2 linked regions of the Homo sapiens genome follow. The protein of the gene in region 2 interacts with the protein of the main gene of each other region in a pairwise test. Each region holds a gene or a part of one and is shown on either strand. Other genes may lie near its edges.

Evidence for each region.
Region 1: the proteins of PPIL4 (region 2) and DLG2 interact in binary tests that used the Homo sapiens proteins (3 or more experiments, as listed by UniProt).

The regions. Positions count from the first base shown.
Region 1 is NC_000011.10:83,456,598-83,473,605, forward strand, and holds part of DLG2 (disks large homolog 2), read right to left. Parts: intron 16,181-17,008; coding exon 16,130-16,180; intron 15,131-16,129; coding exon 15,029-15,130; intron 12,777-15,028; coding exon 12,604-12,776; intron 10,221-12,603; coding exon 10,111-10,220; intron 5,497-10,110; coding exon 5,405-5,496; intron 3,328-5,404; coding exon 3,221-3,327; 3' UTR 1-3,220. UniProt on the Homo sapiens protein: Required for perception of chronic pain through NMDA receptor signaling. Regulates surface expression of NMDA receptors in dorsal horn neurons of the spinal cord.
Region 2 is NC_000006.12:149,531,802-149,548,809, forward strand, and holds the start of PPIL4 (peptidyl-prolyl cis-trans isomerase-like 4), read right to left. Parts: upstream 14,243-17,008; 5' UTR 14,205-14,242; coding exon 14,135-14,204; intron 9,786-14,134; coding exon 9,718-9,785; intron 9,631-9,717; coding exon 9,566-9,630; intron 9,259-9,565; coding exon 9,141-9,258; intron 3,938-9,140; coding exon 3,795-3,937; intron 2,974-3,794; coding exon 2,877-2,973; intron 1,774-2,876; coding exon 1,657-1,773; intron 1-1,656. UniProt on the Homo sapiens protein: PPIases accelerate the folding of proteins. It catalyzes the cis-trans isomerization of proline imidic peptide bonds in oligopeptides.

The sequences.
Region 1 (17,008 bases), on a different chromosome or scaffold from region 2:
GGAGAAAGTCAACAACTCAGAGATGGTGGGAAGGAGGAATAGGAAAAGGAGAGGAACAAAAAAAAAAAGAGATGGAATTAGTCGGAAGTAGAAGGAGGAGGAGAGTAAGGAAAAGAATGAGAAAAAAAGTAGAGTCTCGAGCCAGAGGTTGGAGAGTTCTTTCCTGGCTCGGAGTCCTGAAGGGCCGGCAGTAGGATCTAAGACAGCGCACAGAGGCACCCGAGTGCAGCTTTGTGAAGACAGGCTCTTTAAGCAGACAGAGCCAACCCAAGAATTTGGGGCTGGGAAAAAAGGCCTGCAAATAAATAGCCAAGAAATCCCGCAAAAGGCCTGCAAATAAATGGCCGACAATTCTGTGGGAGGAGAGCAAAAAACAAATGCCTCTGCACTTAGCTGACAAATGGAATTTTGATTTTGGTAAAGCTGAGACCCCCGTGGTGCTACACATTGTACCAGAGCATGAAAAATAGCACCAGTTACACGATCTGGCACTTTTCTGAAAGGGCCCAGCATGTGTGAAGGTGACATTGCACCCCCAGCAAGCCTTCAGGTTGGAGAGAGCTCTGGACAAAGTTTGCAGTGTTAGCACCAGTCTGGCCCCAGGCTCCGAGTGCATTTGCACCAGATGTAATCTGGGTAACTTTCATGCCATTTCCATACAAGTCATCAGATTTGCTGCAAAATACACCAGTTCATTGGAGCCATAGAGACATCAACATTGGGAAGTGCAAGACAACACAACAAATGGAGGTGTAAATTCTATTGGAAAAGACCCTCTCACCAATTTGCTTGGTGATTCTTCAAGCAAATATATATGTATCTATATATTTATATAAATCTACATAAAAAAATCAGTGCAAATGCCAATTCTAATCTGAAAGCATCTACACTAGGAAAATAAATAGTTATATTACTACAAAACCAAGGGTTGGTGGTTCAATTTGATTGTACTTAGCCACAGCAACACTAGTAAATGGAAAGCACATCACACGACCCGCGAAAACATCTACTCATTAATGACAGTCTTTTAAATAAATGGTTGCATGCTCAGTTGAGAAACCAAAGAAGTTATCGTGGTGGCCTAAAAATAGAGCTGGGATCAGGAATGGCATTCTGGTGTCAGAAAACTTCTGGGAGCAATATTGATGAAAGTAGGCCTTGACCTGAAACTGGCGAATTGCAGACATGGACATATCTTTAACATTTTGAGCAATCTAAGGAAGTCTCTGGAAATTTAACTTTCATGAGAGGGAGAATGCATTGCTAGCCCTTCCATTGGCAAAGGAAGCCTCAGGACTATGGGAAGATGCATAATTTTGCATTTCTGTTTTGTTTTGGTGACTGTAGCCAGGCAGACAATGATGTTTAGCGTAAGATGAACAATGCCTGTTTTTGGAAAGAGACTCTCATTCTAAGCTCCGATGTTCTTACTGTGAAGAAGCCCCATCACTCTGATGGCTCTATCTCTTGCTCTCCTACCCAGCCTACATGCTGGTTTGCTGCACAGTGTGGCAGAATCCCTGCCAGGTCTGGATGTACCCCAGAAATAAGGCGATGGGGCTTAGTCTGGGCATGCACAGAACCCAGAGTAGAGTGGTTATTATCACTGAAAAGTCTCTCCCCAAACACCATGGGCAAAAGCAATGCTGATGTCGCCATCCACTCTAAAGTGGGAAACCAACTCTTCTAGTTCAGTTTATAGGCTTTGGGAGGTTTCTTTTTTTAAATCATCGTTATTATAATTGTTAAAAAATAAACTTGGTCCAGGTGCAGCTCCAAGAAAGGCAGTTCAGTTGGTTGAGCTCAAAGTCATTAATTGTCTTTCCTTGTGACTCTATCTCTTTGCTCTGTACATAGAAACAAAAAAGTCTGCACCCCCTCACCCCCAACCAGACACTTCTCTTCTCTCTCTTCCTCAAAGAAATAGTGCATCTAGGAACAGATCTCTCATTGGCTCTAGTACCATCTCTGGATGTTACAAAACTCTCAGTTACTCTGTAAAACAAAAAGGTACTAATCCTAATTACTCATTGTTGGCCAAAATGCTAAATGGTCCTTTAAGAATTGTATGTCAGTAACTAGGAACAAAGTTATTCAACTATTTGCATGGCAGGCTCAGGTTATTTAACTAGAGGAAAGCAAAAACTTCCCTTTAGATCATTTGCATAAGTTTGTCTCTGAAAAGCCATCAGCATAAAAAAATGCATTAACCAAATGTCTTCCAAAAATATCCATGAGGGCAACTCATTAAGGGATGTGCTGCATGAGAGTGTATCACTAATGTGGAAGGGAGGTAAGTGAGGAAGAAGTCTTTGTCAGACTTAAAAGGAACTCAGATGCTCTTAACAGATCATTGGCAACAAAAGGGAGAGTGCAACTTTCAGGTCTTGAATTTGATCATCTGCTGATGTTGCATACATTTAGTCTTTCAATATTAGTCTTTACAAAATATTTCACAAAACTTTTTTAACCTATAGAAATTTGTTTCTATACATTTAATATATTTTTATTGTATAAATTATTCTCATCTTTAGTGCCTTCTTTCAGTTTATAAATGGCAAAATAGGCAATCAACAATCATAAAGCTAATCCCAGGTGGAATCCCCTCCTGTCAGTGAGGTTAGTCCTCCATACACTTGCAAATTTTATGAAATTCTTGTCTTTGCAGATGCCAGTCAAAAAACTACACACTTATCCTTCCCTGATAGTATGTCATCTCCAAAGGGATTCCTTTCTTTTTTCCTTCTTTCTTTCATTTGCTTGTTAAGAAATCAAAAGATGTGCATAGTTATAAAATTCAAAGTGTACCAATTACAGATGTGGGTAATGGGAAGGCTGATGAGGTTCGAGTGCTGGCAATTTTTCTTTAAAGCAAAAGACACAGAGAGCTCTGCAGCTAAATCAGCTCTGGACATCTGCTGGGGTGAGGAGGCTCTCATCTCATCTCTTGGGCAGAAAGCCCGTCAGAGGTTCATCCCTACACCTGGCACTTTGAGCAAACCAAAGCCTTCCTTCATACTGCAATGTCTTTTCTGTCCCACCCTTTGGCCCCTCTGTTTCCTTCATGGCTTCATACAGTTTGTGTTGTACATTCGTAAGAATTCACATTGACTGCAAAAACATAAATGCAACAAAAACATAAAAGCCTCCAAGTAGTATGTTATATATATTTTGTTCTTCTAAATGCTCTTCTGTCGTTGTCAGAGGCGCAGTAGCTAATTTATAACTTTTCCTTTGAGGGAATCCAGATGAAAGGCCCAGATTGCTCTTCAATAACAAGCTTGCATTGGTTATATATATCTTCTAAAGTATCTCCTTGGACAATAGCTGTAACAAAAGCAAACACACCCAGAATTAGAAATAATTTCCTGGATGGTGAAGAACAATCATCACTTACACATTGGAGGCTCAAATCAGTAGCAGATGACTCATCAGGAAGCTTCATATCATTTTTCATTAGTAAGAAGAAGCAGAAAATTCATATAAGCAAAGTTACATTCATGATTTTAAGAAATGCTTTCAATGGATATCCTGGATCAGTAACAAATGATTCACAGTCTTTGCACTTTCTACATGTCTGTCTGTAGTACTGGACAATTTATCACTCATCTATTTAACCAATATTTTATGGGTGCCTACTCTGAGCCAGGCACTGAGCTGGGCAATGATCAATTTTCAGACTGAGAGCTCCCTATTTAGAAAAGAAAACTGGCCTTACAGTCTGTATATTTACTTATTTTGGCAGCAGCAGAAATTCAGATATTGTAGACACCGAGGAAATAATGAAGATTTTAGAGGGAAGTTTAGTTAGCCTCCCAACCCTCAAAGCCCTTAATAGGAAAACCCATTAATTCCCCAAATCTCTGGTAACTTGAGATTTTTACCATACAGAGCTATTCATATTGAGAATACCATAAGTCCACTATTTATAAGAAACATAAACAGGAAGAAATATAAACAAACTGCTCAGTTGTGTATCTCCTAAAACACTAAGTCACTTGGAGTAGATTTAAGTACATTTTATTGTCTCATTTGAACAAAAGTTATCTTGTAGAAAGATTTCCAAAACACATCAGTATTATCCATATGACACTAGGTCTTAAAAATAAATTACTACTGAAAGATGATTTAGATATTTAAAAACAATCCTCAGAATATATTATTGTATTGTATACAAAATATAAACCACTGTCAAAATGTACACTTTTGTTTCTCCTACCTGGATGTTCTTTTAGGATGAAACACAGCTCGTATCTTGGTTACTGACAGAAAGATTACTTAATATTACCTGATTCAAGATATTTACAAACTGCTAAGGCACTGACACTTTCTATATTCTGAATAAGGTAAAAAATAAAACATCTAACTTCACATATGGTAATCCAGGAAGAAAGTTCTTGGGTTTTTTTTTTTTTTTTTTTTTTTTTTGAGACAGAATTTCACCCTTGTTGCCCAGGCTGGAGTGCAGTAGCACGATCTCGGCTCACTGCGACCTCCACCTCCTGGGTTCAAGTGATTCTCCTGTCTCAGCCTCCCTAGTAGCTGGGATTACAGGTGCCTGCCACCACACCCAGCTAATTTTTTGTATTTTTAGTAGAGACGGGGGTTTCACTATGTTGGCCAGGCTGGTCTCGAACTCCTGACCTCAGGTGATCCACCCACCTCAGCCTCCCAAAGTGCTGGGATTAGAGGCATAAGCCCAGCTCGAAAGTTCTTGTTTTTAAACCTCCGGGAACCAGGTGTAAGGCAAATTTCACAAAGTCTGATTACTCAGTGTTCTATGAAAGTATATAGGAATACAGAACTCAGAACTCAGGCTCTCCAGAAGAAAACCTCTATTCCCCTTCATGTTTCCAAGGAAACATTTAAAAAGAAAAAAAAAGCAGTTTTGGTTGAGACTTGACACAGTGAACTGAAACATGAGGAAGTTTTAAGCATCTTGTTCAGGTGCTGCTGATAGGGACACTGATGAAAGCTCATGGAGCTGGGGACGGACGCCTCCAAGCTTCTTCTCAAGAGTAACTGCTTTGGACACTGACCATTTTGAGCCCTAAAATTTTGTTTTTCAAGTTTTCTGATGATATCAGGGAGATAGTTTAATGAGGTAGCAATGCCTCAAATCCTTTTCATGGTAGGAGATAGCTCAGGGGTATCTCCTGCCCATGGTTTTGGGTAGGGCTGGTGGGAACCTGGGAGCTGGCTGCAGCTGAACTCTCAGGAGAACCCAGGGTTTTACATCAAAATGGGTGAAGCAGAGGGATACTCCTTGTATATGAAACAGATATTAGGGATTCTCAACAGGAAGGTTTTAGGGCACAAGTACACCAGGCCCAGAACCCTCTCTGTGCCAAATGTCAGACAATTTATCCCCTTTCTCACACTACCAGGGTAAAAGTGAACTTACCTGTAAAATATTCTCCAAATTCTTGTTCTAGCTTAATTGCTCGATCATAGGTTTTCTTGGCTTGTTCCTCTGTTAGACGCTTATTCATCTCCCTGGGAAAATGAGGGTTTGTATTAGAACATAAAGGGAATATTCCAAATCCTAAAAAATTAAAATGTATGGCAAAAATAAATCCTACAGAAAACATAGTGTAATCTTAGCAACAGGTTTTTAGTCTTCATTCAGGACTCCTCTGTGCTGGAATAATTTCAGCAACAAGGACTCACGGCCAGAAAGCTCATTCTCTCAAAGGGCAGTCTCTTGGTCCCACATTGGATTGAAGCCAAATATGTCTCCTTATGATTTGTAGTCACTGGTCCCTGTTCTGCAGGGACCTAATATCCTCCATGGTAGGCCCTAGGATATTTAAGTAAAGTGCTTAAGTGTGTCTTGAGGCTTCTACTTCTTCAGAATAAACTGTCCTATTGCTTCATCTATCCCCTCATTGGATGTGATTTCTAAATCTGAACTTTCCTGACCACCCTTTCTTGGAGTTTGTTCTAGTGTATCTCAGACTTTCTGAAATGTGAGAGTAGAATGGTAGTTATCAGAGACTGGGAAGGGAAGGCAGGAGGGGAGATGAAGAGAAGCTGGTTAAGGGGTATAAAATGCAGTTATAGGAATATTTCAAAATAGCTAGAAGAGAAGAACTGTAATGTTCCCAAAACATTTCTGGTGATGGATATTCCAGTTACCCTGATTTGATCATTACACATTGTATACAGGTATTAAAATATGACATATACTCCAAAAATTTGTACAACTATTATATATAAATTTTTTTTAAAAGGCTCAAGGATAAATCAAGGTGGGAGAGAAATGAAAAATTCTTGAATTCTCTCTAAAACCTAATCTATTGATTCTTAACTACTGGCAGCTTTATCTTTCCGGGTCTTCCAGGTGTTAAAAAAAAAATGTCCTGCCAAATGCAATTTGGTTGGCTGATCAGGATGCATCACAGGTGCATGTAGAATTTCTGAAATCATTACCGTCTTGCATGCTGCTTAGGAAGCCAGAGATTTGGGTCTGGAACATCTGGCCTTAGTCAATTCCTTTCGAGAGCAAGTAACAGAGGCAAGAAGGGATGTGCTTAAGGCTGTGTATTTAACGAAGAGTAATCTGGGGTAAGAACTCAAGGTTTTGGTTTTTTAAACCAATTTTCAGTTAGACTTCCTATTATACCAAGACTTGATATCTTTCAAAAGAGGCTATTTGGAAAAAAAAAAAACAATATATTGACATTAGACATTAATGGCTGAAATACAAAGTAGTGAGAATTTCCTGAACTCTTGTTGCTAAACTCATCTTGTCCTGAGGGGTGTTATGTATAATTTTTCTTCCAAACAGTCTCAGCTGTACATGCTGTGAATGGATGTTACTCGTGGGTGGAGAAGATGCTGGGCTAAACCAAGGGACACTCTTCAGAGAAAGATAAATATTTGCTCCAGATGTCAAGAAATCATGTGGGCCAGGCACAGTGGTTCACGTCTGTAATCCCAACACCTTGGGAGGCTGAGGCAGGTGGATCACTTGTGCTCAGGAGTTCAAGACCAGCCTGGGCAACAGGGTGAAACCCTGTCTCCACAAAAAAAATACAAACATTAGCTGGGTATGGTGGCACATACCTTTAGTCCCAGCTACTTGGGAGGCTGAGGTGGGAACATGGCTTGAGCCCACGAGGTCATGACTGCAGTGAGCCATGATGGCACCACTACACTCCAGCTTGGGCTGGACAGAGCAAGACCCTGTCTCAAAGAAAGAAATCACATAGTTCTGGATCATCTTCGACCTGCCTTCCAAGAATTCTGTCTTCTCTGAATTCCCTTTTTACTGATTACAGCAATGACTTAGTTTAGGTTTTTATTCTCTGACCTGTGAATTTATTTTGTCTCCTTGACTGATCAGTAATTCTTTGAGGGCGAAGACCATGGCTTGTTTGTCAGCATGTGGCATGGAGACTGATTCAACATTTATTTGTTGAATGAATAGATGAGTAAATGAATGAATGAATGAACAAATGGGGAGCTAGATAAACATAATTATAAGATAGTTGAAGACAGAAGTAAACACAGAGCATCATGGGAGCAGGAAGGTAAAAGCAGATTGGAAGTGGCAGGGTGAAGGGAGATTGCCACATGGAAAGGGAACAGAAGTCAGATGGTGGCACAATATAAAAAGAACATCCCTTTCATACACATCTTTGATTTTATGCTCCTCTGAAGAGTCAGCTATGTATGTGCTAATAAGCTCTGTGATTTGATGTGGATGATGCACTTGAGAAATAATGTGTGTGATGATGTATCAATGTGTAAATGTGACAGCTGTCATGCTTTTGTTCCGGCTGACCTAGCATTCACTACTCTCTGGGGAATGGGCAATTCATGGCAGCTTTGCTCCTGGAGTAAAAGCCTTGGAAAAGAGTGAACTGTAAAGTAAACATCCAACCTTTAGTAGGTAGATTGCATTGGTCTGAATGTCACCATCACTGCACTTGAGACCCATGAATATGGCTGCAGCAAATTATGTCAGATTCACTGTCCTTATTGTGAAGTCCAGCCTTTAGTACATTTAACTTTCCTTGGTGATAAGTGGCTGTGACAGTGCCCTAAGGCATAACTAAAATAAGTCATCTCATAGTTGTGGAAGGCAGTAGACCTTCTCCTATGGAATGCCAGATGGGACTGTCTCCTAATATTGCACCGGACCAAATGTGCCACTGCTGTCGTTCCCTCAGGCCTCATTCCCCTGGGAAGCCATTTATCCCACTGAGTGTTTACAATATGAAGATTTATTTTTCTATTTCTGAAACAGGCCTTTAAGATGGCTGTTCCCAGGAAGTAAGGACTATTTTTCTTCTCATTAATGTTAGCATTACTTATATTTATGAGGCTCTTGACAGATTATAAATCAATTTTACATCATGAAATTTGTACTTGCTTAATTCACTTTGTGCAATGCCCGACATAGTATCCTATACAAGGAGAAATTTAATACATGCTATTGGGGATGATAATATTAAGAATCATTATTTTATCATTAGTACATATTTTTCCATGTGCCAGCCATGGGAAAAACTCTTTATATTATAATTTAATACCTAAATTCATGGGGCTGAAGGTACTGTCAGTGACCTCCCGATCTTACTTTTTTTATCCTGGTAAGAATCCTTGTCCATTTTTTATATATGGGACTATATTCTGCTTTCAAGGTACATCTCTGGCTATTTCCCCAGAGCTCAACTATGTATTTAACTTAATTCTCTCAGGCTGCCACTCCAGCTGCTGCAGTTTGCTTTGCTTCTTTGTCTTCAGAGGAGACACAGAACAGTTAATATCCTCTGTAAGCAATTGCTTTCACCACTGGGATTAAATAATTTCTGTTTCTTCGGTCCTTCCATAAACATTATTTTCCAGTACTCTGTGGTTCACTCCTGAACCCTGTCAAACACTATGGTCTTGAGGCCCAGATGAAGGCAAAATTTGATCAAGGCCCTCATGACAGACACATTGGCATTATCTCTTGCACTGTCATGGAAGAGGTACTGTTTATGTGTTTTATAATGATAAAATAGTTTTATTCCTTTATAATGAAGTAATTTTATATCTTTTACAATAATAATAGGTATTATTTATTGAGTACTTACCATATGCCAAAGAGTACATGAACAGCTTTACTAAATTCCTAATCTTGTTATTTAACCTTTATACTAGCTCTATGAGGTATTTATTAGTATGCCTCGTTTCGAGGTGAGGAGCTAAATCTTAGAAAGGTCAAGCAATTTGCCCAAGGTTACTTAACTGATCAGTGGCAAAGTAAAGAACCAAATCTTGCCTGATCAATTTTCAGGTCCCTGCTGGTAGCCCCTTTTCTGGTTACCTCTATCTACTGTAGCTTCACCTTTGTGAATGGGAGTTGCCTATACTGACTTTACAGTCAGATCGTGAATGTCTGCCCACTTTGTTTAATGATTCTTGAAAGAAGTTATTTCACAAGTCCTTTGGAGGGGAAAAAAAAAGAAAAAACCCTGAGTGCACAGGTATGAAGCTACTGGTTTAAGTTACAGATGTTTTACTGCCACGCCACTAAGAAAACTCTATTAAGAACGATGTTCTATGTATGTAAAGTTTTAATTAAGGAACATCAGAATTCTATTAGAGAACCAAGGAAAATGCCAATGAAAAAAGTCTCAAACGTTGTCTGCTCTCTCTATAAAAAATCTACACATTTAAAAAGATTTACTTATAGACCTGCCTCAGAAGTATGAGACAATTAAAAAATGATTGCTTCCTATCATTTGGAAAACAAAAGCAAACCAAAAAACCAAATCAAGCCAAGCTATCCTCAAAACAACAACAACAAAACCTCAAAAACTAACAAAGAAAACAATCCGTGAAGTAAAACAATAAAAATCAGGAAACATTATTGAAGATGTTTTAAGGAATTACTATTATTGTTAAAATGAGGGATGTTAAAAAAAGAAATCACTGACATTATGTTTCTAGTTGTTTAAAAGAACTTTGATATATCTTCAAAAAAAGAGAATGCTGAAAAATCAACAATGGCATTTCCCATTTGTAAGCATTCCCAGCAAAATCCTGTTAGTAATTTTCAGTATAATACAGAACAGGGAGTCAGTTGGATGAAGGCCTCCAATGCCCTCTACTCACATAAGAGGTTCCAGAGACCTGGGTTTTATGAAGATGGCAATGGGATAGAGCTGGGCAACTTGTAACCGCTTGATAGCATTTCCTGATACATCAAGTATACAGTGTTTGCCCTGGTAGAAAGAGAAGAAAAATATGAAGTTAATATAGGAAGCATGGCCATAATCCAACAAAAGGAAACTAATGTATGTAGGTTTTAGAGGAAGGTAGGGGATGCTGGATTTCTAAAGTCAGAAAAAGATCACTGCAAAGAGTAAATAAAAATCGATATATAGGGTCATCATTGAGTGTTTACAATAACTAATACTAACTAGCCCCTTACAAAGTGTCTGCTACTGGACTGGACATTTTACATATGTTCTCTCAGTTAAATACCTGATGTAACACACAAAGATGACATGCAGCCGTATGTTATGTGACTGAGTCTGTTCTCATGAAGTTTAAAAACCATCTCTGAACACAATTGTCAGAAGAAATTCCCAAATCTCTGAGGTAGGTATTATCAGCTGCATTTTACAGAAGACTCACACTAACTAACTTGCCCAATAGTTTAGTGCTAGGAGCATGCAAACCCAAGTCTGGAGCACTAACAGAATTGTTGGTTGGAAAAAATAGACACCTCATTGTCTCACCCTGCCCAACATTCGGTGTGGAAGATTGAGAATAATGTGAATTTTTCCAAGTACTTGTACATATCCTGTCTGCAAGGTACTCAGTCTAGTGGAGGGCAGACACAAAAATGGTTAACTTAAACATATGGTTGGTTGGGTGCAGTGGCTCATGGCTGTAATCCTAGCACTCTAGGAGGCCGAGGCGGGTGGATCACCTGAGATCAGGAGTTCGAGACCAGCCTGACCAAAATGGTGAGACCCTGTCTCTGCTAAAAATCCAAAAAGTTCACCAGGCATGGTGGTGGGCACCTGTAATCCCAGCTACTTGAGAGGCTGAGGCAGGAGAATCACTTGAACCCAGGAGGTGGAGGTTGCAGTGAGCTGAGACCGTGCCATGGCATTCCAGCCTGGGCAATAAGAGTGAAATGCCATCTCAAAAAAAATAAAAACTATATGTATATATATATATATATATATATATATATATATATATATACACACACACATATAAAATATATAATTAAAACATATATATATATATATATATAAATTAAATGCGGGTTAAATGCCAAGAGAGAAAGGCTTGCATGAGGTATGTAAATTTCTTGTTTGTTAACAAATAAAAATGCTATTACATTATAGCACACCTCATTTAACTTGGCTTCCACCACAATGAGTGCTCAGAGCAAGCAGCTGCTTTATAAAGCATTTCTGGATATGCAGATACATTTGCCACATCATATTCTACCTCCTGGAGAGAAATGTCCTCATTACCCTGAGGCTAGAATAACTTTATGCAAGAAGAGAAAAAAGGCACTTTATGCAGATAGGAACAATACTAAATCAATAATAAGGGCTAAAATCTCATCTATAATGTTCACATGAAAATGAATACAGTCCAGTGAATACTTGAAGTCTTCTTATCTGAGAAACCCACTAAGATGGTTCAAGCCGTTATTACTTAGGTAATAGATTTCAAGTTTTCTATCTGTGAAGTGCAGCAGCCACATAACATGTATAAATGCTGGTTGATTATTCACCAGTCAGAACATTTCAAGTTAACAACATGAACAAAGAGGAAAATAGGTGCAATTATCCAGGACAGTTTGACTAGAACCAGTATTCATTTAGTTGATAGAACTGAACTTTTGAGAGGGAGGAAAATAGATGCAACTTCTTAGTGTATTCTTAGATAGACATCAAAATTACTTAATTCTTTAGCGGTACATTGAGAAAGGTCATGGCAAATCAAATCAACCCAACAAATATCTTCTCCTATGATACTGGTTCTCTGTGTTCACAGGAAATAGGATCCCTCTGTAGGCAGATTGTGTAGCCACACCCAGGTGCCTTCCTATGGTACCCTCTCTTGAACATTCTTCTCTTTTCCATGCCCCTGAAGTTACCAGCAAAAAGATAATAGCAGCATCTACACCTCCTCTAAGCTAGAACTTCTGCGAGCAAAAGGCTGGGCAGCCCTTCTCATCTATCTTCTCTTCTACCATGAGGATGTCAAGTTTTCAGAGAGAGAGAAAAAAAATAACTTCCTCTAACAAAATAATTCAGGAATGCTATCCCCTTGGTTTACAACTAAAGTAGTAAACCTGCCTTAATAAAATCAAGGTTGTGTATTGGGGCCTCAGATAGTGAGTCAAAGACAAAGCCCTCTTCCTACTTTTTCCAAGTCAGTGAGAATACTTTATTGAAATTAGAACAAAGATTAATGACATTGCTCTAAGGTGATTCTCTGCTTGGATGTTTTAAATTATTAAATCAAAATTTACAATTGCAATCAAGAAAGAGTAATGACCAAAAAAAAAAAAAAATGCAGTTTGCAACCTAGAAACCTTCTTCAGGGGAGGTGTAAGAAGATTGGTGAACATACTCTTTCTGCTACAAATCTCACAGACTGCACACTGGTTCCATATAAATTGTCATTGTACTGGCCGGCTTCTATAAACTTGTGCTCTTGGATATCTTTCTCCATTTGTTCTCTGGAAATGACAAAGTGATAGTCTCTGCCATCCACCTCGTAGTCTCGCTTTGGCCTCGTAGTATCTTTATAAAACAAAAAATGATAAAATTAAGGTGCATTTATACCCATAAACTTGCTTTACACCTATATTCTCCACCACATCCTCAACATTGATATGTAGAAATATGTAGTATGAAGAAATATGACATAGTAACAGGTACTAGTCTTACCCTCCCACCATAAGCAACTAAAAAACTGGACAAAATATATGAAACAACTGTTTTCAGATATCAGACAACAGGAAGTACAGGGCTGTAATCTTTGAGAAAAGAGAAACATATGAGAGAGCATTCACCCCACCTCTCTACCTAGAGGCCATTTCCAAATGGAGAGTTTAGACATCACATGGTGCTAGAAGACACGGGAGTTGAGTCAGAACCCATGGAGATCCCAGAAAGGCCACATTTTAAAAGGTTACTCTAGACTTACTCTACACCCATCTTCACAAAGTCTAAAACCATGTCACAAATGGAAGAAGCTGCTGTGTCAGTAAATTATCACCTGTCAGAACAAAAACTTAACATTCTATAAAGGACCATAAAATTCAGACTCTCAACATATATAAAATAAGATAATCACAGTTAGATAGGACTAAAAATCAGCAACTCTAACCATTTCACCTAAATTTTTTGGTAAGAAGAGAAGGGGAAAGCAATCTAGCAATATGAATAAAAGCTGTTAAAATATTTTTAATCTTTGACTCACTTATTTTTTCCTAGAAATATGTTTTTAAAAATGATCAAAACTTCAGATACAGATTTATCCTTAAAGATATTCATTATATTATTTTATAAGTAATAATTATAACACAATTACGATGATATTTTTGTCACAATTCATAATAGTGAAAAATAGGGAAAAACCAAAATGTTCATAAAGAATGATTAATTGGGATATAATAATCATTTGAAATAGTTATATAAAATTTTAAATAAGCAAAAAAATCATCACAGAGAAAAAATGCATGCATAGAAAGAATAGATGGAAATGTACAAAAATATTAACAATGATGTTATCTCTGGGTATTGTGTGGGATTTTGTATACTTCTAATTTTCTCGTTTAACTTTCTTTTTAGTGTTTTTGAAGTTTTGTACAATGAACATCTATTGACTATCACAAAATGGTTCTATTAATTCAAAAAAGAGAGAATATGCAAGGTGAAAGGGAAAGCAGAAAGAATGCTTAAGTACCTTCTGTTTTCTTTCTCTCAAAAGTGGAGGAGCAAGCTGGAAGCTTGCTGTAAACGACCTGGAGTTTCATTTGCTCCTTCCTGTCTGAAGACTTTCTCAGGATATGTTCTATGGCAGGATCTCTTCCCAGAGCCCTTGCTGGGAATTGTTTCATGAGATACAGCAATCATCCTAGTCTTTTGGCCATGTACTGGACACATACAATTCCTGCTATTCTTAAGTATCTCATGTAAAATTTGCAGTACTGGAATGTTAGAGACACTTGAAAGCATCAGGCTTAAAACACATAGAATGGAAGAGAAATATTTGTTGGTATCAGATGTAAGAGCTCCATTATCTAATAAATTAAAATTTCCTGATGGACCTGTCTACATACGTAGAAGGTCTGCATGCATTTCTGTTTGACAGAGTCGGGGTGTAGACGGGGTGAATGAGTGGAGAAAGTATGGTAGGGGTGGGGAGGGGAAGAGGCAGAGCAGTTAGAATCTAATAAGGCTACAATCAGAGGGACCAGAAGCCTGATGATAATCTATAATGAGAAGAAAGTAGTTTAAAGTCTGTAATGGCCTAGAGGTCAAATTGAAGTGTTACACATTTTCTTGTCTTCACCCTCCCTAAACCTGGGACTGTCAACATGGGAAAGCCTATTGGGTTTTGGGATTGACATATGGCCCTAAGTCATCCTGAGAGGATTTTAATATATGGCTTTGTTTCCGATCTCTTCCATCCTATAAAAAATAATGTTTCAGTGGCATTTTGATCAATCTATGAAAACATACTGATGCCTATCATAAATCCTATGCTGTTTTAAATGGTTGGGGGCCACAAAAATTCATCCTGCCTTTTAAGGGGCTACAATCAGTTTAGAGAAAACATTATTATTTTTATTAAATACAGAATGACACACGGCAGCATAAATGAAAAGTGTTAGGCAAATAAATTAAATAAGGCACTCAGCTAATCGGAAATGGTTGGTATTTGAATTACTGGAGAGACTACTGGAGGATGGAATTACATTTTACCATCTCATAAAGAAATCCAAGCTCTTTTTGTTTTTCCTAGAGGAAAGAAAAATGACACTTACGAGGCACACAGGAGCCAAATTTATCAGGGAATTCAGATATCAAGTCGTCATTGATCCGATCCTTCATGGGCCCCAGGATAATCACCGGCCGGGTGTAGTTTACTGCAGAATGGGAAAGGAAGATGTAGGTAAAGAGAAAGAGTTGGAAACAACTGCAAAACTGTCCTGCAAGGGTGATTCTTAATTGCCAGACAGTAAGAGATGCTAAGGGCATTACTTCACTGGATAAATTACTCATACAGCCTTGCATAGGGAAATTGATGTTTAACACTCAGGAGATTGGCAGTGCCTACTTTCTGGAATCTACTAGCAGGGAAAGGCAATTGCAGTATCTGTTGATGAAAAGAAACATTTGGAGGAGTTTTGCTTACTCTCTGGCTCTGCCTACATAATGTCAAAACAACTGAATTTAGTCAACTGAGTGGGAGAAAAAAGAATCCAAACCAGCTGTTTGGCTATTGTTTAGATATGACTATAAAAAGTAATTGTTAGTAGTAATAACATCTTATGTTTTCATGATTTCTTTTCCCCAGATCAAAATACTCTCTATACTTTGCTACAGTTTCTAGATTTCCTTGTATCTGGGATTAGAAGGAACCTGAGAGTTCATTGGGTACAAGTCCCCATCTGATGCTTGAATTCTCTCTGCAGTATCCTTGTCAGTAGCAATTAGCCTCTGTATAAATGCCTCCAGGAAAAAGCAGCAGCTTACAGATAGCCTACATCTTAGGCAGATCTGCTAGAAAGTCATTCTCAATACTGAGCTGACATCAGTCTCTCAGGAGAATTTATTCACCAGTCTCGTAGCTAGTGCTCTTTAGGTAATTTGAATGTGTTCCTTCCCATTGAGGACCACTCATCTGGAGGGCTGCATCCTTCTCTTAGGTGCTATTAGTGCCCATACTCAGCAGGAAGTTGTCTGTTTGGTGATAGGGTCAAAGAGAGAGAAAGTGAGAGACAGCGTAAGAGTAAGGTACGGTCTCAAGACAACAGAGCATTAAGCCGAGTTTATTCTCCTTAGTCCTTCACTCTTTCCCTCCTTCAATGATGTCACCTCTTATGGCCCAGAAATTAGGAATGAAAGCGTGCTGGGAAACTTACTTTCCTGCCTTGTAACAGGCTCATAGGAAAGAATGAGGTCTTCTTGTCCTCCTGAGAAGAGAAGGAAAGAAAACCACAGTGAACTAACAGTCATATATTACAGAGACAAGCCCTGCTCTGAAACACAGGAAACAGACACAGCTCAGAGTTAATTCTCCTTGCTCTTTCTCCTTGAACCATTCAAAAATAACTTCATCCTCATAAAACTCTTTAGCACCATTTTAGTATCAGATTTTCACAGTCATAACTCTAAGTAATAACTGGTTGCTAGCTATTTGCTGCAGGGCAATGACCTGTGAGACTTCTTTCTGTCTGGCATTGAGAATGGAATGCCATGGCCTCTACACCAAGCATTACTACTTAAAAGGAAGCCATTTAGTTCAAGGAAAGGGTCCAATTCAATAGATGGCTGCTACATAATCAGAATTGCTGTACCTTTTATTTCATCTTCTATTTTATTTCCCCAAGAAGCACACTGTTCAAAAGCAAGTATATGCTTATTTCATTTATGATATAAAAACTTCATCAGGACACTCAGGGTTTTACTCTAATATTAATTCGTCAGGAAAATGCTGTGGGTCAATTAATGAAGATCAAAAATTGAGGTGTGTCCTACATCATTGGTTATAATTGCTGCTAAACTGTGCGTTGAAACTTCAGATAGAGAACTAAGGAAGACACAGTAGTAAAATGTCAGCCCCTCCAATGTCATCTGCTACAAGCCTTCTGACTCAGGGTGGACCTCAAGTCAACAAATAACCATAGAAAGTAAATTGGTTTTTGCCATTTATTTTTTCAATCATCTATTTTATATAATTGATGAATTAATTGGTCAGAGGATTAGCTCAATTTCACCTGCAAACCCGGAAGTGTCTGCAT
Region 2 (17,008 bases):
TAGGATTACAGCCGCATGCCTCTATACCCAGCTAATTTTTGTATTTTTAGTAGAGACGGAGTTTCACCATGTTGGCCAGGCTGGTCTCGAACTCCTGACCTCGTGATCCACCCGCCTCGGCCTCCCAAAGTGCTGGGATTACAGGCGTGAGCCACTGTGCCCGGCCCTATAAACTGTAATTTCTGTCACTTCTAAATTTTCTGATTTTGGTAACTACACTGTGAATACGTACATATTGTTATACACATTGAATACTGCTGCTCTTAGGAAATACACACTGATTAAGAGGTAAAGGGAAATAACAGGCAACTTACTGTCAAATAGTCGAGAAAAAAAATGTGTGTTTATGTGCTTGTATAATCAGAGAGAGAGAAAAAGAGAGAATCATAAAACAGATGTAGCAAAATGTTAAAAATTGGTGAATGTGGGTAAAAGGTATATAGAAGTTCTATGTACTTTTTCCCATAAATTTGAAATTATCTGAAAACAAAAAGTTTTAAAAAGTATGTTAATCTATTTTCTTCTGGCATAAACTTCCAAAGTGTTGCTGTGGAAAAGTCTGATAACAATCTAAATTCATTCCCTTATAAGTAACTTATTCTTTCTGCCCAATTGTTCAACATATCTTTCAAGTGTAGTAATTCTCTTAGAATTTGTCTTGGTGTTGGGTGTTCAGAGTCAATACTCTGAGATACACAGTGTGCTCATTAAAATGTGTATTTTCAATTAATTTTTTTAATTTCAGTAAAGCTTTCTTGAACTATACAGCCTTTACTATTTGTTCATTCAGACAGTTGATGGTAATATAAACTTAAGCCTGGCCAACATAGGGAGATCCTGTCTCTACAAAAAAAATTTTAAAATTAGCAGGGCATTGTGGTGTGTGACTGTGGTCTCAGCAACTCAGGAGGCTGAGGCAAGGGCATTGCTTAAGCTGAGGAGTTGGAAGCTGCAGCAAGCTATGATCATACACCACTGTACTCCAGCCTGAACAACAGAGTGAGACCCTGTCTCTATAAAATAATAAATAAATAAACTTTAAAACAGACTACAAATCTGAAAGTTCTATTATATAAAATAGTAACTTTATTATCCATTCATTCCAATATTTATTATCTATGATATGACAGGTATGCCTATTCTACAAAAATAAGAAATGGAAAATAATACCAAGTAGGTCAATTAATCATCTACTGAATTATTATTCCCCAAATGACTTCAGGTTGTTAGTAATACAGAGAAGCAGTATATTTTAGAGTGCTCAGTTTCCACCCATTATTTTGCCCTACAACTACCATTCTGTTTAATCTTAACACTTGAGTGGTACAGTGAAGAACTATTCTTTAATATACATAAAATTCAGCCTGCTAAACACTCTTTAAGAATGAGATGAATATTAAACAACTGAAATTCAATTAATAAGTTAGAGATCCACTTCCCACTGTTTAAAAAGGCACTTAGCACTATATTGACAGTAGAGTCAAATTTATTTTCACAGTAGAGCCAATTTATTACTATGCCATACCAAATTTAAATCAGAAAAAAATCATAACTCAATTTTTAACATTTTAAGACTACTGAAGAGCCAGAAATAAACACTCAGTAAGTATTATTAGATATATTACAGAACAATTTGAACAAAGATAATTATCTTACCATCTCCAAAAGTATAGCCTGAGTTTTAGCCTCTTTTTCTGCCTTTATTTCTTCTACTTCCTCAGCTGATCTTCCTTTGAAATCATCAATTTCTTCATCTGCTCCTATTCGACCACTCTGTTAAGACAGAAGTTACTCATGTATATATTTAAAGAATAAAAAAATCTGAGAAACATAGAAGACATACTTTATTCTTAGTTATATCAAACATGCTAAAACAGTAACTGATCAAGGTTGCAGTGAGCTACAATCACACCACTGCACTCCAGCTGGGTGACACAGTGAGATCTTGTCTCTAAAAAAAAATTTTTAATAATTAATTGGACAGCAACTGAGACAAACTTATAAACCTCCAAGAATTGATTTATATTAATTCTAAAATATTAGCCAAAGTGGGCTTCTGTTAAAATCAAAATAGGCCAGGCATGGTGGCTCGTGCCTGTAATCCCAGCACTTTGGGAGAACACGCAGGTGGATCACTTGAGGTCAGGAGTTCGAGACCAGCCTGGCCAACACAGTGAAACCCTGTCTCTACTAAAAATACAAAAATTAGCTGGGCGTGGTGGCATGCACCTACAATCCCAGCAACTCAAGAGGCTGAGGCACGAGAATTGCTTGAATGAGGAAGGCAGAGGCCACAATGAGCCGAGATCCCACCACGCACTCCAGCCTAGGCAACAAAGTGAGACTCCATCTCAAAAAAATAAATAAATATTTATATGGACACTATTTATTATCCAATTCTAACTGCTGAATGAAGAGAAATGATCTGACAATTAAGCACCAATCCCAACCATAAAGACAAATTCAGCTTTCAGGAAGCCACATAAACCTTAAAATATGTGGGGGAACAGTCTGCGCTGTTTCACAGAAATTTCTGGGTTCTAGCCTGGCTCCAGAGTGTCCCCAGTTGAAAAGTTACCTCACAAGATAACAGTTTAATTTGATGACAAGAAAAACACTTTCCCAAGGTGTTCATGTAAGCTTCTAGAGCTGAGGTTGTCTCAGTAGAAAAGAAACTGAAGAAAGGAAATTAGAGAAATGAGAAGACAGCTAGAAAAATGAGTACCTCTGTGGAAAAGAAAAAGAACTCCAAACTTGTTGAATATAATTAAGCAAGATAATAATTCGGAAAAAATTAACTTTAACAGATGAAAAAGATAAATCCATACAAATCATTAATATGAATGTACATTTAATCATAAGAGGGCTTTACTTACATCTAATTGTTCCCTTGTAGGTTCTGGTGATCGATCAGGGATTAATAAATCAGGAGGGTCATCAAATGGATCATCTAAAATCACCGTATGATTTATCCTTACAAAATAAATCCAAATCAAATGTTATACATTGAAGTTATTTCAGAATCCTATTTTATTTTAATAGATTACAAAAAATTACTTGATTATCTCTAAGGCCAAAAAAAACCCATATTGCATATGGATATTACTAACCTAGATATACTTTCACAATGAGTGTTACTGTTTTGCATTGAGTGATACCATATTTATCACCCTGCATTACTTTAAGATGTAAACTAATATAACTGTCTAAATCTTAGTACTTTTGCCCTACTTCTCAATTAAAAAACTAAATTAAAGCATTAACAATTCCTCCAGCTGGGTGCAGTGGCTCATTCCTGTAATCCCAACACTTCAGGAGGCTGAGGTGGGTGGATCATGAGGTCAGGAGATCGTGACCATCCTGGCTAACATGGTGAAACCCCGTCTCTACTAAAAATACAAAAAATTAGCCAGGTGTGGTGGCGGGCGCCTGTAGTCCTAGCTACTTGGGAGGCTAAGGCAGGAGAATGGTGTGAACCCGGGAGACAGAGCTTGCAGTGAGCCAAGATCGCGCCACTGCACTCCAGCCTGGGCAACAGCATGAGACTCCGTCTCAAAAAATAAATAAATAAATAATTCCTCCAAACATAATTATAAATAATTAGTACAAGTATAAAAATACAAAAAGTCCTTTTTATTATAAAGATTCTTACAGTCTTATATTAATTCACCTTTTGGGATTAGAATTATCCAGAAACCAGTCCTATGCATACCGTTCCTATCCATACCACTACGTGTTAAACATCTCAATATTAAAACATTCTAGTACATTCAGATAGCAAATTGTAACCATACCTGATATCCTGATATGGTACAAAGTCCTTGTCAACAAAGGTCTCATTAATTTTCTTAATTATGTCCATGCCTTCTGTCACCTCACCAAACACCGTATGGACACCATCAAGATAATCTAGATTTTCTCCTGTGGTGATAAGAAACTATAAAGAAGGACACATAATAAATACCATAAAAATAATACATAACTCAAACTGAAATCAGTTACAGACTGACAAAAAAATACATGAAAGTTAAGAGTCCACATTTACTGCACCAATTCTTAGACACTTGTTACCAAAACTAAGTAAAAAGTACAAAGCTTATACTGGCATACCTCATTTTATTGCACTTTGCAGATACTGCATTTTTTACAATTAAGGATTTCTGGCAACCGTGTATTGAGTAAGTCTATTGGTGCCATTTTCCCAACAGCATAGGCTCACTTCATGTTTCTGGCTCACATTTTGGTGATTCTCACAAGATTTCAAACTTTTTCATTACTATTGTATCTGTTATTACCATCTATAATCTTTGATCTTACTACCGCAATTGTTTTGGGGCACCACAAACTGTGCCCATATAAGATGGTGAACTTAATCCATAAATGTTGTATGTGTTCTGACTACTCCACCAACCAGCCATTCCCATCTTTCTCCCTCTCAGTGCTCCCTATTCCCCGAGACACAATACTGAAATGAGGCCAATTAACCCTACAAGAGACTCTTAAGTGTTCAAGTAAAAGGAAGAATGGCACATCTCTTACTTTAAATCAAAAGCTAAAAATGATTAAGCATAGTGAGAAAGGCACGTTGAAAGCCAAGATAAGCGGAAAGCTAGGCCTCTAGTACCAAACAATAGCTGAGTTGTAAATGCAAAGGAAAAGTTCTTAAAGAAAATTAGAAGTGCTATTCCAGTGAACACATGAATGATAAAATGAAACAGGCTTACTGCTGATATGAAGAAGGTTTTAGTAATCTACATAGGTCAAACCAGCCACAACGATCCCTTAAGCCAAAGCCTAATTCCAAACAAGCCCTAACTTTATTCAATTCTATAAAGGCTGAGAGAGGGAAGGTAGCTGCAAAAGAAAGTCTGAAGCTAGCAGAGGTTAATTCATGAAGTTTAAGGAAAGAGGCCAGGCGCAGTGAATTACTCCATCTCAAAAAAAAAAAAAAAAGAAAAGAAAAATTTAAGGAAAGAAGCTGTCTCCATAATTTAAAAGTGCAAGGTGAAGCAGCAAGTGCTGACACAGAAGCTACAGCAAGTGGCCAGGTGCAGTGGCTCACGCCTATGTAATCCCAGCACTTTAGGAGGCCGAGGCAGGCAGATCACAAGCTCAGGAGTTCAAGACCAGCCTGACCAACATGGTGAAACCCTGTCTCCACTAAAAATACAAAAGTTAGCCAGGCATGGTGGCGTGTGCCTGTAATCCCAGCTACTCAGGAGGCTGAGGCAGGAGAATTGCTTGAACCCAGGAGGCGAAGGTTGCAGTGAGCTGAGATCATGCCACTGCACTCCAGCCTGGGCAACAGAGTGAGAATCTGTCTCAAAAAAAAAAAAAAAAGAAGCTGCAGCATGCATCAAGTTATCTGGAAGATCTAGCTAAGATCACTGATGAAGATGACTTCATGAAATAACAAATTTTCCATGAAGACGAAACAGCCTTATATTGGAAGATGCCACTTAGGACTTTCACAGCTAGAGAGGAAAAGTCAATGCCTAGCTTCAAAGCTTCAAAGACAAGCTGACTCTTCTGTTACATGCTAATCCAGCTGGTGACTTTAAGTTGAAACCAATGCTCACTGACTATACCAAAAATCCCAAGGCCGTTAAGAATGATGCTAAATCGGCCGGGCGCGGTGGCTCACGCCTGTAATCCCAGCACTTTGGGAGGCCGAGGCGGGTGGATCACGAGGTCAGGAGATCAAGACCATCCTGGCTAACACGGTGAAACCCCGTCTCTACTAAAAATACAAAAAATTAGCCGGGCGTGGTGGCAGGCGCCTGTAGTCCCAGCTACTTGGGAGGCTGAGGCAGGAGAATGGCGTGAATCTGGAGGTGGAGCTTGCAGTGAGCAGAGATTGCGCCACTGCACTCCAGCCTGGGCGACAGAGCAAGACTCCATCTCAAAAAAAAAAAAAGAATGATGCTAAATCTATTCTGCCTGTGCTCTAGAAATGGAACAACAAAGCTTGGATGACAGCACATCTGTTTACAGCAGGGTTTATCAAATATTTTAAGATCACTGTTGAGACCTGCCGCTCAGAACAAAGATCCTTTTAAATATGACTGCTCTTTTAATAAGAAATCCTTTTAAAATATTACTGCTCATTGACAATACTCCAGGTCACCCAGGAGCTCTGATGGATATGATGTACAAGGAAATTAATATTGTTTTCAGCTGTGCACAGTGACTGACACCTGTAAACCCAGCACTTTGGGAGGCTGAGGCAGGTGGATCACTTGAGGCCAGTTCAAGACCAGCCTGGCCAACACAGTCAACATGGTGAAACCCCATTTCTACTATAAATACAAAAAATCAGCCGGGCGTAGTGGTGCACACCTGTAATCCCAGCTACTCAGAAGGCTGAGGCAAGAGAACTGTTTGAACCCAGGAGGCAGAGGTTGCAGTGAGGTGAGACTGCACCACTGTACTCAACCTGGGTGACAGAGTGAGAATCTGTCTCAAAAAAAAAAAAATACTGTTTTCATGCCTGCTAACATAACAGTCATTCTGCAGCCATGGATCGAAGAGTAATTTCAACTTTCAAGTATTACTATTTAAGAAATACAGCCTGACATGTGGCATGCACCTGTAGTCCCAGCTACTCAGGAGGCTGAGGTAGAAGGATCACTTGAGCAACGTAGTGAGGCCCCATCTCTAAAAATAAAAATTAAAAAAAAATACATTTTGTGAGGCTATAGCTGCCATAGATGGTGATTCCTCTGATGGATATGGGCAAGTACATTGAAAACCTTCTGAAAAAGATTCACCATTCTAGATGTCATTAAGAACATTCGTGATTTGTGGGAGGAGGTCAAAATATCAACATTAACAGAAGTTAAGAAGAAGTAGATTCCAACCCTCATGGATGACTTTGAGTGGCTCAAGACTTCAGTGAAGGAAGTAACTGCAAATGTGGTGGAAACTGCAAGAGAACGAGAATTAGAAGTAGAGCCTGAAGATGGGACTGAATGCTGCAATCTCATGATCAAACCTGACCAGATATGGAGCTCCTTCTTAAGGATGAGCAAACAAAGTGGTTTTCTTCCTTTTTTTTTTTTGTTTGAGACAGTCTTGCTGCATCGCCCAGGCTGGAGTGCAGTGGTGCAAAGTCGGCTCACCGCAACCTCCACCTCCCAGGTTCAAGCAATTCTCCTGTCTCAGCCTCCCAAGTAGCTGGGACTACTGGCGCCTGCCACCACGCCGAGCTAATTTTTGTATTTTTAGTAGAGACGGGGTTTCACCATACTGGTCAGGCTGGTCACAAACTCCTGACCTCAGGTGATCCGCCCCCCTCAGCCTCCCAAAGTGGTGGGACTACAGGCATGAGCCACTGCACCCAGCCAAGTGATTTACTGAGATGGAATCTACTGCTGGTGAAGATGCTATGATAACTGTTGAAATGACAACAAAAGGTTTAGGATAGTACATAAACTTGGCTGATACAGTAGTAGCAGGGTCTGAGAGGATTGACTTCAATCTTAAAAGAATTCTACTAAATGCTATCCAACAGCATCGTATGATACACAGAAATCTTTCATGAAAGGAAGAGTCCATCAACATGGCAGACTTCTGTTGTCTTATTTATTTATTTATTTGCAAGACAAGGTCTGTCACCCAAGCTGGAGTGCAGTGGTACAATCACAGCTCACTGCACCCTTGACCTCCTGGGCTCTAGTGATCCTCCCACCTCAGCTTCCCAAGAAGCAGGAACTACAGCCCTGTACCACCATGCTCAGCTAATTTTTGTATTTTTTTGTGGAGATGGGGTTTTCACCATGTTTCCTGGGCTGGTCTCGAAATCCTGAGCTCAACCCATCTGCCTGCCTTGCCCCCGCAAAGTACTGGGATTACAGATGTATGCTACCACGCCAGTCAGTTGTCTTATTTTAAGAAGCTGCCACAGTCACCCCAACCTTCAGCAATCACCACCCAGATTAGTCAACGGCCATCAACATCAAGGCAAGACCCTTCACCAGCAAAAAGATTATGATTTACTGAAGGCTCAGATGATCAGAAGCACTTGTTAGTAATAAAGTATTTTTTGGTCGGCCACGGTGGCTCACACCTGTAATCCCAGCACTTTGGGAGGCCAAGGCAGGTGGATCACCTGGGGTCAAGAGTTTGAGACCAGCCTGGCCAACATGGCAAAACCCTGTCTCTACGAAAAATACAGAAAGTAGCCGAGCGTGGTGGTGGGCATCTGTAATCCCGCTACTCGGGAGGCTGAGGCAGGAGAATCGCTTGAACCTGAGAGGCGGAGGTTGCAGTGAGCCGAGATCACACCACTGCACTCCAGCCTGGCTGACAGAGCAAGACTCTGTCTCTAAATAAATAAAATAAAATAAAATAAAACAAAATACTTAGACAAGCCATGACTCAACTTCATGTGTATATAGTAGAAAACAGAAGTACCTACTCTAACAAGTAGGTCATTGGGAGAATTAACAGGGTCATTGGGAGAATTAAACAAGACAATGAATAGAAGGTACTCTGCGTAATGTTTTTAAAAAAGTAAGAAATACTGAAAAACGGCCAGGCGCGGTGGCTCACGCCTGTAATCCCAGCACTTTGGGAGGCCAAGGCAGGCGGATCATGAGGTCACGTGATTGAGACCATCGTGGCCAACATGGTGAAACCCCGTCTCTACTAAAAATATAAAAATTAGCCAGGTGTTGTGGCAGGCGCATGTAATCCCAGCTATTCGGAAGGCCGAGGCAGGAGAATTGCTTGAACCCGGGAGGGAGAGGTTGCAGTGAGCCGAGGATTGTGCCATCGCACTCCAGTCTGGGAGACAGAGTGAGACTACATCTCATAAAAATAAATTAATTAATTAAATAAAAAGAAATACTGAAAAATGAGCCACAAATGTGAACAGTGATAATCACGGATGGTGGAGTTGTAGGTAATGTTTTTCTTTGTACTTTTCTGTATTTTCTCAATTCTTCACAATAGGAATGCTTTACATTTAAAAGAAGAAAATAATATTTTTTAATATAGAAAAAGTGCATTTTTTCCCCTAACACATATTTCTGATTGAAACCCTCTAAGCCTTACTGGATAGTTTAAAAAATAACTCTGTGGGCTCCTTCCAGTCCTTCATTTCTAAGCAAATCTCATATTCTTACTCATTTCCTAACCTGAGATCCATGTTGATCACTGCCATTATTCACCATGGACACTGTGCCTTTCTTCTTGTGCTTAATTCTTGGGACTTTTTCTGCCTCAAAAAAGCTTGCTTGATCACCATACAGTTGGCTGAAAAAACATATAAGGTTATAAATGTAAGTACTCTCAAAATGAAATACAGAAGTACTAGTAACATACAGGGTTATCAATTATTTCTTTACAGAAATGCCAACAGAATTCAAAATATTACTTTTTTTTTTTTAGGGAACTTGGGGGAAAAAATCTAAATTTAAACCATATTTTAAAATGCAGATTGAAGCATGAGCAATTATATTTTTCCTCATTTAAGAATAAAAGAATTTGTTCTGCCCTTCCAGAGGTTAAAAGTAAATAAATAAATAAATAAATAAATAAATAAATAAATAAAACAACTTACCCAAAGATAGACTCTCCTCCACGGCCAGTCCCTGTAGGATCGCCAGTTTGTATGATAAAATCCCTCTGTAATATGTAGGATTCTTTGTTAATTCACAGAGTTTGTTAGATAGTTCCAATAACAAAGGAAATGACTAATATCTACCAACTCACCTGTACATTGTGAATAAGGCAATAATTGTAATATTTTATTTTGCACAGTTTCAAGAAATTCAAGCAGGCTGAAAGAAAGTAAATACCAAATTTATCACAGTAATCCACAAACACATTTTTAAATAAGTAAAGCCACAGTAAAATGTAATTTCTAAATTACTATTAAAAGAAAAAAAAAGTCAAATGTCCAAAGCTATAAAAAAGGGCAATAGGCCGGGCGCTGGCTCACACCTGTAATCGCAGCGCTTTGGGAGGCGGAGGTGAGTGGATCACTTGAAGTCAGGAGTTTGAGACCAGCCTGGCCAATATGGTGAAACCCTGTCTCAACTAAAAATACCAAAAAAAATTAGCCAGGCATGGTGGCGGGCACCTGTAATCCCAGCTACTAGGGAGGCTGAGGCAGGAGAATCACTTGAACCCAGGAGGTGGAGGTTGCAGTGAACCAAGATCGCACCACTGCACTCCAGTCTGGGCAATAGAGCAAGACTCTATCTCAAAATAAAATAAAATAAAATAAAATAAAAGGGCAATAAGTCTAGAAAAAAAACATTTTAAATTACCTTTTTTTTTCCTTTAATAGGAGTTTTGGGGCATCTGGGCTAATACAGAAAACTGACACTTATAAGCAATCATTTACTGATGGATTGATTTTATTACGAGAAAAAAGAACACTTAAAGAGCATATTGTAGTAGAAAAGGATCTAGCAGAATATATAAAAATGGATACGGATTATATCAATTAGGAAAAAGTCAAACACCCGGGGTCATTTTTTAAATAATAGTTAAACAGCCCTTTATAAAAATCCATACACTTATGAACAACCTTTCTCATACAAGTTAATCTGCTTATCCAATAAACATTTACTGAGTACCTTCTAGATGCCTGACACTGCCATCACAAATGCCATTAAACTGTGGTCCCTGCTCCCAAAAAGTTCACAGTCTAGTCGTGGAAAGACACATTAACAAGCTCTTAAGGCACTAAGTTAGAAACCAAACAGACAGTAAGATATATGAGGCAATCCCTGCCCTCAAAAAGCTTACATTAAATTAGGGTCCTTACATCTGAACACAAGTAGTTACATACTGGGCATATCTAATTAATAACATGTGTGCCACTTATTTAAAATGGTAAAAAAAGTAGTTTTAAAAATTCCACAAGAGTTCAAAAGATTGTTTCTGGCTAGGGAAATTAGAAAACCTCAGGGAAGGTTAAGGCAAGCATTAAAAGAACTGGACTAGCAGAGAGTGAAGGGTGAGCATTTTAGGTCTGGAAGACTATGAAAAGGCCTGGAAGTGGAAATTTAAATGTTTTAGGGGAGGTCCAAAACACCAAAGTTCTGTAATAGTCTGGTATTACACAGTAATAGAGCATGAAAAGACTGGAGAGATAAGATGGGGCTGAGCTGTTGAAGAGTGCTGAATATCAGTCTTGCAGTTGTTTTTCTTGAATATATTTCTGGGCTTCATGTTTAACAGATAGGGGTGGTCCTTTTACTAGAAACAAAAATAATGAATTTAGGCAATGATCATCAATGGCTGCCAAAATCTTTAGGTCTTTCATCAAAATCCGATGGGAACAATTTATAAGCGCAACAAGGCCTTAACCCACTGACCAATTTTAACATCACAGAGCCAACCAGACATCAAGTGCCTCCTGAATGTGATGCAGCTGAAAGTACACACTATCTTATATGAAATATTCTTGCCAAAAACATTAAACTGGAACCTAATCAAGGCTCTGAAGCTAAAGAACAATTTATAGGAAACAGGGGACACAAAAATATGTTAACGCACCCAGTAAATAATCAGTCGAATCCAAACAAGAGAAATTCTACAAGACAAAGCACCCAGGTTGTTTCTCAAAATTTTTTCAAGGAAAAAAGGGGGAGAACCAATAGATTAAAACATATATGAGACATTTTAACCAATATATGGACTTTGGGTCCTAATTTAAATCACCATATTTTTTAGAAGTTTATGAGATAATAAGAAAGTTTAAATGATACTAAAAATTATTGCTAGTTTTTTCAAAGTGTGATAAGATCTGTGGTTCTGTTTTTTTATTCTTTTTTACAACTTTTTCTCTTTCCTTTAGTATTTTTCCCTTTTCCCTGTCAAGTTTTTTTTCTTTTTTAACCTGTCACTTATGTGGTACTTAAGCTCATAGTTCCATTTTTTCTTGTTTTTTTTAAAGAGACGTTATATTTTAGAAATACATACTGAAGTAATTACAGATTAAATAGATGCACTGGAGGTGGGGGTATTATAAATGAAGCAAGATTGGCTATGTGTTCACAGCTGTTAAACAAAGCTGGTCATGTGGACATGAGAGTTCATTTACATGATTCTCTCTACATCTGTGTTTTAAATTTTCTATAATAAAAAGTTAAAAAAGAAAAGGAAGAAAGAATGGAAGGTAGGTAAGTCTGGATATGTTGATCATAGATTGATAAGTGAGTATAAATATAGCAGGTACACATGTAAGCACATCTCCAGTCATATGCTTACAAATATGTACAGGGGGTGGACTTATTGTTATGGGCTTATCTTTGCAGACCCACTGCTTGTTAATTGGGTGGGGTAGCTCTACACCCCTTTATTTCCTCATAACTCTGGGAAAAGAGGCCCATTTATTTTGCCAGGTGCTACTCTACATGGGCAGAGCGTCAAAGGAACTCAAAGAAAAGCAAAATCAAGAGATAAAAAACAAAATTCCCTATGATATTCTTTGAAACACTCGATCCAGCCACTCGATCCAAGCTTACCCCAGTATTATGAGGCAACCAATTATTTTGTTTATGCCAGTTTGAGTTGGGTTTCTATCACTTGAACAAAGGGTCCTAACTAATACAACACATTTATATCCATTAGTCATCATAATGAACCTCTAGTGTGTGCCCTAAAAGTAGCAGACATTGTACTGGGTACTCAGGATATAGAGATGATAATTATGGTATAGTTCCTGCTCTCATTGGAGTTTACATTCTTGAGCGAGGGCACGCTTGTAAACAACACCAGGATAATAGGTAAATGTTAAAATAAAATGTGTCATGTGGTTTATAAAAGACCTAAGACACAGCAGAGGAACCCTCAGGTAACTCTGCTTAGAAAGGAGGGAGAGCTTCAAAGAAGAGATGATGCTTGATCTGAGATTTAGATAATAAGTAGTAAGTTTGCCAGAAGGACAATAGTGGAGAAGAATATTGTTTAGAAGAAACAGCAAAAGAATGGTAACAATGGTACGGGAGAGTTTGTAGTGTTTTCGCCAGGTGGAGAGGAGGGAGGAATAGCTGCGTGCGAGGGAAAGCGGAGCACGGCAGGAGGTAGTTATTGTACAATATTGCAACTTATTTCACCTTCTTTGATAGGCTCTGCATTCCATGTGGGTAGGACCCTGTTTGTAACTAATCTCTCCTGGTCTCAGTTTCTTCCTGACTCTGATACATTCTCCACACCGCTGCCTATTATCTTCTCAAAACAAGTATGCCATGCCTCAATCCTGCTTTTAAAGTCTTCAAGGACTCTGATCATCAGTAGGGCACACAAGACTATTCACGACTGACCTAGGCGTATCTGACCACACTCGAGTCTACCATTCCACGACTCACACCAGTCCTTCCAGCCACACCAAACTACTTGCCGTTTCCAGAAAATTCCAAACAAAGAAAGTCCAAGCTAAGAAAACCCTCATTCCCATTCATCTTTGAAAGAACTAGTTCAAGTGTTCTATATAGTATTCGCTAGCTTTGCTTCTTCCCACCCCCCACCAAAGAAGCCGCCCTCTTCTGGTTTCCGTGGCAACTTACACATTCTTCTACCATAACACATAGAAAACTAAAATGGGTTCCTGTGTCTACTTCCCCCAGTGGAAAAATCAGACCCTCGGGGGCAAGAAGCCAAGCCCAGGACTTAGCCCAGTGCCTCGAAGGCTCAGTCCACACTCCAGACAACCTCTTCCTCCTCCACCTAAGCGGTATGCCCACACTCGCTGCGCCAAGCACACCCTAACTGCCTTCATCAAGATTTAACCGATTACACACCAAGCAATAGTTCCTATGTTCCTCTCACGAGTAAACACAATAAAGGCACAAAAGCTATGGGTATTGTATGTGCAGCTCGAATCACACACACACACGCCCCACACACACACTCCCAAAGGCAATTAATGACCGCAAGCACCGTCCACCGGACTGGCCAACACAAAATACGGGAGAAGGGCTGCCAAGGCTCAAACGAATTCCCGTCACAAAAACTTTTCTAGCCAAGGCCGGTTAATAAAATAGCCCAGTCGCGGGCACCAGCAGCCCAGAAGCTCGAGCTCTAGCCAATCTCTGCCCTGGACTGCGCAGAGAAGGGAAAGTAGGGAGACAAGCTCGGGGGCCCCGGCGACAGGTGAGTGGGGCTCAAGCCTCACCACGCGGCCGTTCTTCGGTGTACAAGTCGATGACGACGTCGCCTAAAGTGGTCTCCAGTAGAACCGCCATGGCGCCCGCTCCTCCTCCGCTACAAACCCCGGGAGGAGGGGGGTGACAGGCGCAGGCCGACGGCGTCGTCTACGCCACGCGTCACCCTCGGCGCGACCCCTTTTGCGTCATCTCGCCGGCGCCGCCCCCGGTTCCGAGCAGTTCCTTCCGGTCGGCGTGCGGGCGCCGGGCTGCCCAGCTGACTTACGGATCGGGTTGGTCCCGCCCCCGGCGCGGCCGTTTTGAAAATCCTGGTCCGCCCTTGGCGATTTTGGTGGAAGCCTGTCCCTCAGAACGGTCTCAGTATAGTGTTTTGTGCCCCGTTTGTGTCCGTCTCAAGAGCAGAGCGGCCCTCCGCGCGGCCCTTTTATCCACCAGGGGGCGCCCGCGGCGGGATCTTCTCTCCACCTATTTGGGCGGACTCCTCCGGGTTTCCTCGTCAGTCTCCTTTTCGCAAAACAACTTTGGGCCTCTACTAGGGGTTTCCGATTCTAAGAACTAACATTTTGTTTTGTTTTCTGTTTTGAGACAGGGTCTCGCTCTGTTGCCCAGGCTGGAGTGCAGTGGCGCGATGTCGGCTCACTGCAACCTCCACCTCCCGGGCTCCAGCGATTTTCCTGTCTCAGCCTCCCAAGTGACCACAGGCGCGCGCCACCACGCCCGGCTAATTTTGTTCTTTTATTTTTTGTAGAGATGGCGGTCGGGGGAGGTGGTCTCACTATGTTGCTCAGACTGGTCTCAAACTCCTGAGCTCAAGGAGTTCGAACTCTTCCCGCCTTGGCCTCCCGAAGTGCTGAGATTACTGGCGTGAGCCACTGCGCCTGGCCAAAACTAACATTTTGCCATGCAAGTTTATTCCCCAGACACTCTTCTGGGCAAGCCTGTCACTCTTTCTTATGACATTTTACACATAATCTCCAATAACTTCACATCTGACGAAAAGCCAAAGCTTTTTTTTTTTTTTTTTTTTTTGAGACGGAGTCTCGCTCTGTCGCCCAGTCTAGAGTGCAGTGGCGCGATCTCGGCTCACTGCAAGCTCCGCCTCCCGGGTTCACCCCATTCTCCTGCCTCCGCCTCCCGAGTTGCTGGGGCTACAGGTGTCCGCCATCACGCCCGGCTAATTTTTTGTGTTTTTAGTAGAGACCGGGTTTCACCGTGTTAGCCAGGATGGTCTCGACCTCCTGACCTCGTGGATCCGCCCGCCTCCGCCTCCCAAAGTGCTGGGATTACAGGCTTGAGCCACCGCACCTGGCGGAAAAGCCAGAGCTTTTATAATGATTTACAAGATCCTCTCCTACCCCATCCTACGCCATCTTCTTATTCCTCTGAAGCCACAGTAGACAGTTTGCTATTCCCTGAACACTGCTGACATACTCCTGCCCCATGGCCTTTTCACTTGCCTTGGTTGAGGGACCTCTTCCTCCAGTTATTTGTATGGCTCCCATTCACCTCCTTCAGGCGCTTTGGCGTCGGTCACCCTGTCAGTGAGGCCCTCCATGGCTGCCATAATTAAAATTAACCCCACAGACACTTCTTTTTCTCCATATAGCTTTTTCTCCAGAGTACATTTTACAATCTAACATGCTATTTACGAATTTGTTTGTTTGTTTATTGTTACTAGAATGTGTGTTCCAGGATATTCCATCTTGTCTGTTTTGTTTAAAGCTATATCCCTAATGCGTATGACAGCCTGGTACACAATGTGCAAATAAATGTTTGTTGAATGAATAAATATGGTTTTTCGGTTTGGGTTTTTTTTTTTTTTTTTGAGACGGAGTCTCGATCTGTTGCCCAGGCTTGAGTGCAGTGGTGCGATTTCAGGTCACTACAACCTCCGCCTCCTGGGTTCAAGCGATTCTCCTGCCTCAGCCTCCCCAGTAGCTGGGGCTACAGGTGCCCGCCACAGCGACTGCCACCACAATATTCATGGCTGGGCGTGGTGGCTCATGCCTGTAATCCCAGCACTTTGGGAGGCCGAGGTGGGCGGATCACCTGAGGTCAGGAATTTGAGACCAGCCGGGCCCATCATGGTGAAACCCCGTCTCTAATAAAAAATACAAAAAAAAAAAAAAAAACTAGCTGGGTGTGGTAGCGCATGCCTGTAATCCCAGCTACCCAGGAGGCTGAGGCAGGAGAACTGCTTGAACACGGAAGGTGGAGGTTGCAGTGAGCCGGGATTGCGCCACTGCACTCCAGCCTGGGTGACAGAGCGAGACTCCGTCTCGAGGAAAAAAAAAAAAAAGAAAGTGCTCCCATACCATGTTCCATTTATGCCTGATATGTGTTTAAGGGTTAAAAGTAAAGCCAACAAAGGGAATCCTAAGACTGTGAGTTCTGGGTCATTGTAAGGTTCCTCAGTGCTGTTGAACTGAGCAAACCATTTAGGACAGACCCAACAATTAGTCTTGTTGTAGAAATGGGCCATGGCGGATATTGTAGGAGCTAAAGGGTGTGACGTATTACTAAGTCCCATAAAAAATCCTAACAGACCTAGTGATAGTAAAACACTCATGTTTACTGTTGGTTAATAACTGTTATTCCTGCTGTAAGGATAGTAATTAAGCAAAATGCTACAGTAATTGAGATTCTGTTCGATATTACACCCTGAGGGTGCTATAGTATATAGTAATACTTGGCTTAAAAGGAGAGGTAGAAACGGCAAAAAGTATTTGGTGAGGTAGAGGCGAGACTAAGGTGAGTGGTTCTTACTCCGTTACTTATCTTTTGTGATTTTCAGCTTATGGTCTCCTACTTCTTCGCATTGATATTCAGGTCATTTCTCTGGGCTGTCAGGGGTTGCTCCCTCAGCTTTCCAGGCTTTGACT